Homo sapiens: one gene and its partners. The gene in region 1 interacts genetically with each later gene. Each region holds a gene or a part of one and is shown on either strand. Other genes may lie near its edges.

Region 1 (2,764 bases):
TGTGTGTGTGAGAGAGACCGTATGTCTGAGCGTATCTGTGAGTAGCCTGGGAGTGAAATTGGAACTGATACTAACCCTCAGCTCTCACACTTAGCTTCTATGATAAAAAGAAGATTATGTCCATTTTCTCCTTTAATCTTCACAATAACCCTCATACTGGGAAGGGAGGGGTAGATGAAAGAACTAAATTTTGGAGAAGTTCAGAGACTTGCCTAAGGTCCCATGGATTGCTACGAGCAGTTCCCCGGAGACATTACCAAGACTTCTCACCTGACAGTCCAGAGCACTCCCAGGCGTGGGTAGGCCTCAACCTGTCCAACTGGCTTTTGGAGGTGGACCGGAGCCGGGGAGCCCCTGAGCGCCCGGGGTCACTCTTGCAGGAATCCTGCCTTTACACGTGTGCTAGCTGAGCAGTCTCCCACTCAGTGGAGTGTGTGGAAAATACGGCCATCCTAGAGGTGCTGGAGCCACCCTGTGCCTTCACCCAAACTATCTGATCCCTCGAAGATCCATTTGGGGGTGGGGGCAGGAAGCACATTTTCCTTTCACGCTCACTAAGTCCTGTGAAATATCCTACCGCATGGAAACCACTGTGCTCCTCCGATCCATGCTGCTGTTATTTGACGGCTACGTATTTTTACTTTATTCACACAGTTTACATTCAAAGTCAGAGGTGGATGTGAAATTTGAAAGGTTTTATTTCCTAACTACAGGCAGCTTTAAGAGGCTGATTATCTGCCACGACCCCCCAGGCTGGGAGGCGGCAGCAGGGCAGGGGAGAGCAAGGGGCTTTGGGGTCGACCTCCTGGGGGAGGGTAGCCCTGGGGCCCCGCTGTGCCCTCACTCGCCCTTCTTGTAGGCGTTCTTGATGATGGCGTTTTTGAACAGCGTCACCAGGGGCGTCTGGCTCTTCTCGGAGGTCATGAAACCGCCGTAGCGCTTGTCCTTGGGCGGGCTGCCCCAGCGGAAGTGCTCCATCCTGTAGGGGCCCTCGTCCTTCTTCTCGGCCGCCACCAGCAGGCTGTGCTCCAGGTCGGCCTGGGCCCCTGCGCCGTCATCGGCAGGGCCGTCGGGGCCATCTCCCTCCCGGAGTCGCTGGCCAGTCAGCTCCCTCTTGAACTCCAGGGGGAAGGCCTCGGCCGACTCGTCCTCGGCGCCGTTAGGGTACACCTTCACTGGGCGCCGCTTCTTGCCCACCGGCTTGCCCCAGCGGAAGTGCTCCATGGAGTAGGAGCGCTTGCCCTCGCGCGGGCCCGGCTTGGCACCATCGCTGCGGGGCTCGGGGCCGCCCTCAGGCAGCGGGCCGCAGTCTTCGCCCGCTGAGACGTCCTCGCGCTTCTGCCCTGCGCCGCTGCTGCCGCTGCTGCTGCTGTTGCGGCGGCCGAATCGGTCCCAGCGGAAGTGGCCCATGACGTACTTCCGGGGGTTCTCGGTCAGAGGCTGCTCGTCGCCATTTCCCGGGAACATGGGAGTCTCGGCCGAGAGGTCGGGCTTGCAGGCCCGGATGCACTCCTGGGGGAAGACGCGAGGGCATGAGGGCAGCCCGTGCCCCGCACCCCGGCCCGGCTGCCGCGCCCGTCACTGCGCCTAGGCCCTGGCCGCCCTCGCCACGTGCCGAGGACACAGGGCACAGTGTCGGGCGTGTCAAGCGTCGAGGCCTCCCTACAGAGCAGGTCTGCCCACCTGCTTTCTTGGCACTCGTGGGCATCTAAGATCTTGCCACTGCCTCTTTTGTCCCATCCCCTTCATGCTTCTGCCTGGCAACTGCAACACACTTCCCATCCCATTCCATGGTTTGTCTAGCCATCTAGCCACCCCTAGCTTTTGTGAACAGGACCAAAGTCTTACTGTTATATGCCTGACATAAAGGAGTGGCTCCAAGAAAGGCAGACGGGTGGTAGTTGTTGGCACTTAATGAATATTGAGGGCCGGGCACGGTGGCTCACACCTATAATCCCAGCACTTTGGGAGGCCAAGGCAGGCAGATCACATGAGGTCAGGAGTTCAAGACCAGCCTGGCCAACTATGGTGAAATACCATCTCTAGTATAAATAAATAAATAAGCTGGGTGTGGTGGCGGGCGCCTGTAATCCCAGCTACTCTGGAGCCTGAGGCAGGAGAACCGCTTGAACCTGGGAGGTAGAGGTTGCAGTGAGCCAAGATCACACCACTGCACTCCACACTCCAGCCAGGGCAACAGAGCAAGACTCCGTCTCAAAAAAATAAATAAATAAATAAAAAGAATATTGAATAAATACATATGGTTTAATTCAAGTCCAGGAGGGGAGTGGGGCTGAAATTTGGGGGATAATCTCTCCAGGTGATAGAAGTCTGGCTACTAGGGCCCATATTTTTAAACATATTTTTAATAATGCCTCAACCTGTGTGAACCTGGGAGGTGGAGCTTGCAGTGAGGGGAGATCGCGCCACTGCACTCCAGCCTGGGTGATAGAGCGAGACTCCGTCTCAAAAAAATAAATAAATAAACAAAAAATAAAAAATAATGCCTCAACCTTACCTCAGTGATGAAAAACCTACTTTATGCCCTACCCCAGCTCCATCTCTGCACTAAGCCTCCAAAACTGCACCTTGGTTCTTTCACGACTTCTGAGCTGATTTCTGAGAGATCCCCCAGTGAGCTCTGGGGCAAGCTTATTTCCCTGTAATCTCATTCTGACTGGAGGGAGGGGTGGAAAGCTAGCGTTATTTCCATTGCACCGTCTGTGGAACCTGTGTCTCTGCTCCTTGTCCCTAGAGGACTCTA
Region 2 (3,340 bases), about 150 Mb from region 1:
TGCTTCCATATTTAAAAATAATCACAATATGATATGTAAAATATCTGATTATCAGATTAGATTAAGAATAATTTTTAAATGGCATAAACCAAAGATTATTTCATGCCCCTTTCCCACTAATAAAATGCAAATCATGTCACAAGTATTTTACAAATTACTATTTGAATATGCCAGTGTTCCAACAGGTCAACTTTATAATCTTTTTCTCTCCTCTGAGGCTCTAGTACACATATCACTTCTCTCATTAGCCAGGAGGTCATTTATGTTGCCTGGATTTGCTATTGTGCTTCTAATTAAGCTATTTCATTAATCACATAGTAACTGTTTCCTGCAATAAAAATCATGTGCTGCATAGGACTTCAGAAGTGCATCACTACACTGAATTTCAGAGCACTCCCTAATTTCTCTTCTTTTGCAAAAATACATTTACCTTTAAACTGTTAATGTGTGTGTTTATATATATATATAAAATTCATTTAAATAGTCAATCTGATCCAAAGTATATTTTTACTGAGAATATATCTGAAAAAATTTGAATTGAGATTAAATTTTTAAATGAAATATATTTACTTTTTTTAAAAAAAGGTGTTTTCAACTTTAAAATGCAGTTTAGAAGAATGAGGATATTGATAGAACTGTTAATGTGTTTATTGTGTGACGTCAATAGTAACAGGACATTTATGTTGAATGATGTTATGTTATAAAAATGCCATGGAGCAAGATAAAATTATATGTATAGTTATCACTAAATCAATAGGCAAAATGGACCAAGATGTTTTGTTCCAGGTCATTTCTACATGGATTCATTTATTATTCTGTGCAAAAAAAAAGAAAAAAAAGCCAAAGTACCTATCTATTACAAAATATGACTGCTGTCTACCCCATTTAAACAAAGAGGGAAATTAAGGGTAATATGTAAAGCTGAATGGCAATGTTGTGATTCACTGTGATAGTGCCATGGAAAGGATTACAGGAGTAATTCTGTCCTCTCATGCCCACGTAAATGGTGAAAGGGATCACTAGCAATTCCTATTTCCATGTATTTCCAAATAAGAGAAACTTGAATTTAAAATCAACTGAGATCCAAGGTTGGATAAAATCTCTGGATACATGAAATATGGTCAAACTCCATCACAACATATTGCAATAAAAACTGTTCAGGGTATTTTTTGTACTAGAATTTTGTAGATGGAAGGTAACTTTGGTAAGGGATCATCTTCTGAAGTTGGCCATAAAAGCCCATCATGCTGATAATCAGTTTGTTGTAATGGTCTTTGACCTGTAGGAGACATGCAGGAAATGGAAGTTGCATGCTTAGCTAGCATAAAACGATTCCTGAGCAACAGTAAAAAGCATTCCAAGCCTTCCCCATCACTTTATAGCAAAGAGAACAAAAAGATGACAGTGAGGAAGCCTCACCAAGAGAAACACAACATTTCCAACATGCAACAGGTTAATTAGGCGGTCGACACAGCTTCTATCTGTGGAAAATTCCAAAATGGACAAGAAATCTAGAATGATTTCTTATGCATCTTTGAATTCCCTAGTGGAATGCTACATACCGAATTAATAACACATTGCAAACTGGGCTACTATGGAGGGCTAAAAGTCTCTTTTTGTGTGTACAAATATTGCAAATTTTCTTCATTGCTGTGGTAGATATTTAACAAGAACATAAAATAACTCACCTGCAACGAAAGACTGTGCATTAAAAAAAACAAAAACTGAGCTTTCAAGTGAAATAAAATAAAACAAATCCAAGCAAGGCAAGCCAGTGTGGACATTTGGAAACATCTGTTAATGGGACACACATAGCAAGCTGTTGTTCTTAAAGTTAGCCACCACAACCATAGCGGGTCCCACAGCTAGCAATTAAAAAACATTGATCAATTACCAATTACAGAAGTAGATCAATACTATGCATCAGAAGTAAGCCTCTCTTTATCAGATGGCTGAGCATGGATCTCAGCCTTGTGATATGTGGCATCATAATGATCTTTCTTATTTCTCTTGAAGAAACCACACTACAAGGAAGCAAGGTATTTAGTCAATTTTACAGTTTTGTGTATAAGAGCCAAACAACAGAACATCTCAAATTTTAATCTGCCTTCTACTAGTGGCTTGTTTACAAACAGACCACTTTCAGTCAACCAACAATGAACAGCCACTGCATTGTTTCATTGTCATATTCAATACACCCTTCACCATACATCTCTGGTCAAATATTTATATGGATGACACTAGTCAGCTCATTGATTTTTCTCTTTGTAACAGAAATCTTGTGGACAAAAATCATTCTAATAGGGAAAACGTATATACATTGCTGATTGTAGCTTTGGGTAGTTTCTTCCTGCAGGAGAATATGAACTCCAAAAGAGGCAAAAGATTGACTTCGGCAGTTTATTGAGACAAAGGTTAGAAAATAAATTCTCTAAATAAAAGCACAAATCCAAATAAAATATAGATATACTATGGGTATTTTTCTGCCTTTTACAGTAAATTTTATGGAACAAATGCCATTTACTTGAGGCCTTTGGATCTGTGGGGTGAATCACAATACAAATTCGAATACACCATCATGAAAGAATGATTGCTGTCATTTTCCCAAACTCTGAGCACCATAAAACCCTTAAATGGTAGGGACCCAATGCTCCTCAGGTTAGGTCACTCTAAATGAGTATAAAAGTATAATTCCACTTTCTACTATAATTTCCTTCGTTCAGTGATAGAGAACTTTTCCTATTTACTTTTATCTAGTTCATAAGGCCATGGAACTGTCTTTTATAAAATTTAACCTGGTCAAATAAAATCTCCTGAAAAACTCTGATTCCTAGTCCAGCAACTCATGAAGGTAAAAGCCTAGATTCACTTTGTACAATATATGGGAGCTGCTGGCTCCGTGAGGCTATTCAGATTGAAATTAATTTAAATTACATTTAAAACTCTGTGCCTCAAGTGAACCAGCCATATTCCACGTGCCTAACCGCCACACATGACTAATGGCTACCATACTGGATGCTGCAGCTCCAGAACATTTCCATCAGTATAGAGTTTTGTTGGGCAGCTTTCAATAATATGTGCTAGTAAATAGGGTGGGAAGAAGAATAAACCAGGAGCCAAGAGGCCTGGTCCTGCCTCCAACTTGGCAACATTCTTTCCTTTTTTTGAGACAGAGTCTCACTCTGTTGCCCAGGCTGGAGTGCAGTGGCACGATCTTGGCTCACTGCAAGCTCCACCTCCCAGGTTCACACCATTCTCCTGCCTCAGCCTCCCTAGTAGCTGGGACTACAGGTGCCCGCCACCATGCCCAGCTAATTTTTTGTATATTTAGTAGACGCGG
Region 3 (4,001 bases), on another chromosome or scaffold:
CTGTCATCCCAGCACTTTGGGAGGCCGAGGCGGGCGGATCACTTGAGGTCAGGAGTTCGAGACCAGACTGGCCAACATGGCGAAACCCCATCTCTACTGAAAATACAAAAATTAACTGGGCGTGGTGGCTCACGCCTGTGGCCCAGCTATATGGGAGGCCAAGATGGGAGGATCGCTTGAGCCCAGGAGTTAAGGCTGCAGTGAGCCCTGATCACACCACTGCACTTCAGCCTGGATGACACAGCGAGATCCCGTCTCAAAGCAAACAACTAGGCAAAGCACAAGCAGTGGACAGAGGGGCCGGGAGAAGAGCTCGTGGGAAGCGTGGGGTAGGGGCTCATGATGGGCAGCCCTGGGGCTCCCGGCGACCATTCTCTGTCTTGACCCGGTTGCAGGGACCTGGCTGTCCTTTATAATCAACTGAGTTGCCCGAGTGGCTCTGTGTGACCCGAATGCTGGATGCATCGTGTGGGGAGAAGCCAGCCTCGGGGACCAGGGCTGCCCAGGAGGCCCCGTCCCACGGTGACTGGCTGTGCCTTGAGGGCTAGGACCTCACACTGTGGCAGGTGTCCTCAGCACACCTGGACCCCTTCTCTCCCAGTGACATCCACAACCAGAAACACAGCGATGCACACCAGTGATTTCCATGCACTTTAATGAGGTCCAGCACTCAGGAGGATTAGCGCCCACCACCAGCTATCTGGGCAGGGGAGGGCTGGAGGGCCCGGTGCAGGCGTCAGGCTTAGGACAGGGAAGGGGGCTCAGGATAGGGAAGGGTCCTCAGGACAGGGGAAGGGGCTCAGAAGAGAGCAGGGGGCTTAGGACAGGAAGGGGCACTCAGGACGGGGCAGGGAAGGTGTGGGGGGCAGTCGCCACCTGGGTAGGAAGCAGTGGTGTTTTGGACAGCAGGGGTTGGTCCTCCAGTGACCCAGGTGGCCAACCCAGGCCTGACTCACGGCTTTTTGGGGACATAGTGGTGGATCCAGTCCAAGTAGTAGGTGACACGGGTGTAGATGCCAGGCCGGTTGGGCTGGGCACAGCCCTCGCCCCAGCTGACCACGCCCGCCTGCAGCCAGGTGCCATTCACCTTGCACACCAGGGGCCCTCCGGAGTCGCCCTGGGAAGGTCAGAGGTCAGCGCTCGCCGAACAGGCCTGGGAGTGGGGGTTGGGGGGCGGGGGGCGGGGGACAGGCGGGGCCCACCTGGCATGAGTCCCTCCGGGTGTTCCCGGCACACAGCATGTCGTCACGGACGATGCGGACGTCGTCTCCCGTGTAGGCGCCAAGGTGGTATTTTGCGTCACAAATGTGGTTTTCCATTATGGGGACCTTCACCTGCTTCAGAGGAAATGGCGGTGGGAGGCGCTCTGCAGGTGGGGAAGAGGGTGCAGCCTCAGGAGGGGGCCGGGCAACCCCCACCTGGAGCCCAGAGGGAGCCCAGGGGCTGGGCTGTGGCTAAGACCCTGGCCCCACCTCCACTGTCCCCAGACCCACCATCATTGTCCACATCGCCCCAGCCAGTGACCCAGCACGGCATCCCCGGGGGGAAGGTCTCTGAGGCAGGGGGCAGGGTGACCGTGTGGACGTGGCTGGAGACGTTCACCGGCTCCTCCAGCTCCAGCAGGGCGATGTCCGCTCCGATCTGGGCGGTGTAGAACTGTGGGTGCACGATGATCCTGCTGACCGGCAGCAGCTGGTCCTGGTAGTAGAGGTGCTGCTCCCGCAGTTGCACCCTGAGGGCGGCCAGATCCTTGACGTCCCTGGGCAGCGGAGGATCCCACTCAGGGCCCTGGGCAGCCCCCAGGAGCACCCGGGAGCCAGGGCTCACATCCAGCCCTTCCCCACCCCTCCAGGCCCCGGGAGACTCACGGTCCCACGCAGTGCGCTGCGGTCAGCACCCACTGGGGGTGGATGAGGGAGCCCCCGCAGAAGTGCATCCAGTATGGGCCGTGGACTCTCAGGCTCACCTGCCAGGGCCACTTGCTCCTGGGGGCCTCCTGACCCCCGACGATGCCCACTCGCTGCAGGGCCTGGCCTGGGGCTGGGGCAGGTGCCAGGTCAGGACCAGGAAGCAGCCCCAGGCCTGGGCCCAGCCCTTCCCTGTGTGGGGGCCAGCCCGACCTCCCCAGAACCCACCCAGGCCCTGACCTGTGGAATGTGGTGAGGGGCAGGGTGGACCCCGGCTGGGACTCACCAGGGGCCGCGTAGGCGCGGCTCGCCAGGACGGGCAGCGCCAGCAGCAGCAGATTCAGCATCTGGGGAGCAAGGAGGAGCATCGTGGGCCTGGCCGGGCCTCACAGGGCAGGGCTGGGGGCTACAGATTGTGGGGTGAAGAATGGAGCTGGGACGGGGGGACCGGGGTGGGTCCAGGCCTGCGGGCCTGGGTCTTGGTGCTCTGAGTCTGAGGCTGGGCCACTCTGCTCCAGGTGACGCTGATGTCAGGGTCTCTGAGAGTGGGGACTTACCCTGGCCGCTCCCTGTTCCTTCTACCCAGTGGGCTCTCCCCTCCCCATTTATCCTTCCAGATCAGGAGGGGGCGGAGGAGGGGCGCTGGGTCCTCCCATCCAGACTCGGAGGAAGTGGATGACTCAGACCCAGGGCCCCCGTGTAACACGTGCCCCCGCCACCCCGATGCCCTCTGTGTGTGGGGCTGCCAGGCAGGCCCCGCTGAGGGCTGAGCACTGGAGACTGGCAGCTCCACCTGTCAGCTGGTGGATCCCAGCACTGGAACCCACCACCTTCCCGCTGGTGGGATCTGCTCCTGCCCCTGTCTCGGTGCCAGGAGGCCTTCAGGCATTGCTGCACCCAGGTGGCCTGGCTGCCCCAGGCTACAAGACCCGTCGCTCCTGAAACCTGTTTCCCCAAGAGGGACACGGGTGAGGAACTCATGTCCATGGGCCACGCTCCAAGAGACGGGAAGGTGCCCACGGGGTGGGGACATGACGGGTGACACCCCTCCTACGGACTCCGAATCCACGGGGGTGGGGCCAGCCCTCCTCGACTCACTTGGTTGGGGGCTCACGTGAGACCCCTTTGTCAGATGGGGAAACAGCCTTGAGAGGGGACAGCACCAAGTGTCCTCAGCCAGGAAGGGGCCCTGCTCCCCACCCGCCGTATGAGACCCAAGTCCTCCTACGAGTCCTCAATGTCCACCTCTGGGGCTGTCCGTGCAGGTCCCCTGGTCTGCAGGTGCCTCCTTATCATGGGATCTGAGCTTCATACGCAGAGGGAAGAGCAGAGAGGAGTGCAGGTGCAACCCCAGGAGGCCCAGCCCAGCTCCCCATGGACTCACCCCCAACTTCAGCCCCAGCTCCCCATGGACTAGTCCCAGCCCCAGCCCCAGCTCCCCATGGTCTCATCCCCGGCCCCAGCTCCCTGTGCTCTCCATCCCATTCAGCGCTGACACTGTCCCTGCAGGTCCGTCCACCCCACCTCCCGACTCCCCTGGGCCTGTTGGTCACTGGGGCCTCCAGCCCACCTCCTCCGCTTCTGAGCCCCAGGACCCCCTGCCTGCCCCCCGACCCCCAACACAGGGCCACTCCGGGGCTCCTCCTGCCCCCACCCTGCCTGGGACCAGCCTGGTTTGGGGCTGACTCTGCACTGCGGGGCCATATCCATCTGGACTCCTTCCGGGCTGCACCCCCCGGGGGACAGGCAGGGGTGGCCCAGACCGCTCCTGCTCATGACCCTGCTTCTCCTCCATTCTCTGGACAAACTCCCCAGAGGCCTCCACCTGCCCCGTCCTGGTTCCATGAATGAGGCCCACAAGATGGGACCTTCAGGAGCCCAGGAGGTGAGGGGATGGGGTGACGGGGGACACCAGGGATGAGGGTGTGGCAGGGACACGGGAGACACCAGGGCTGACGGTGAAGAAGAGACTCAGGGGACACCAGGGCTGGGAGAACCCAGGGACACACGGGGACACCGGGGCTGTGGTGTGCAGAGGGCTCTGGGACCCCCGAGTCAGGGGCTCTGGGGCCGCTCCTCCTAGGAATGCTCCGA

The links.
Region 2: changes in POMC (region 1) and ITGA6 together harm fitness more than expected from each alone (negative genetic interaction), as found in Homo sapiens cells (one large-scale study listed by BioGRID).
Region 3: changes in POMC (region 1) and TPSAB1 together harm fitness more than expected from each alone (negative genetic interaction), as found in Homo sapiens cells (one large-scale study listed by BioGRID).

The regions. Positions count from the first base shown.
Region 1 is NC_000002.12:25,160,241-25,163,004, forward strand, and holds the end of POMC (pro-opiomelanocortin preproprotein), read right to left. Parts: intron 1,513-2,764; coding exon 841-1,512; 3' UTR 620-840; downstream 1-619.
Region 2 is NC_000002.12:172,500,456-172,503,795, reverse strand, and holds part of ITGA6 (integrin alpha-6 isoform b preproprotein), read right to left. Parts: intron 2,025-3,340; coding exon 1,917-2,024; 3' UTR 1,895-1,916; intron 489-1,894; exon of another isoform or gene 1-488. UniProt on the Homo sapiens protein: Integrin alpha-6/beta-1 (ITGA6:ITGB1) is a receptor for laminin on platelets. Integrin alpha-6/beta-1 (ITGA6:ITGB1) is present in oocytes and is involved in sperm-egg fusion.
Region 3 is NC_000016.10:1,239,192-1,243,192, reverse strand, and holds TPSAB1 (tryptase alpha/beta-1 precursor), read right to left. Parts: upstream 2,489-4,001; 5' UTR 2,465-2,488; intron 2,255-2,464; coding exon 2,194-2,254; intron 2,041-2,193; coding exon 1,869-2,040; intron 1,760-1,868; coding exon 1,494-1,759; intron 1,367-1,493; coding exon 1,203-1,366; intron 1,118-1,202; coding exon 953-1,117; 3' UTR 639-952; downstream 1-638. UniProt on the Homo sapiens protein: Tryptase is the major neutral protease present in mast cells and is secreted upon the coupled activation-degranulation response of this cell type. May play a role in innate immunity.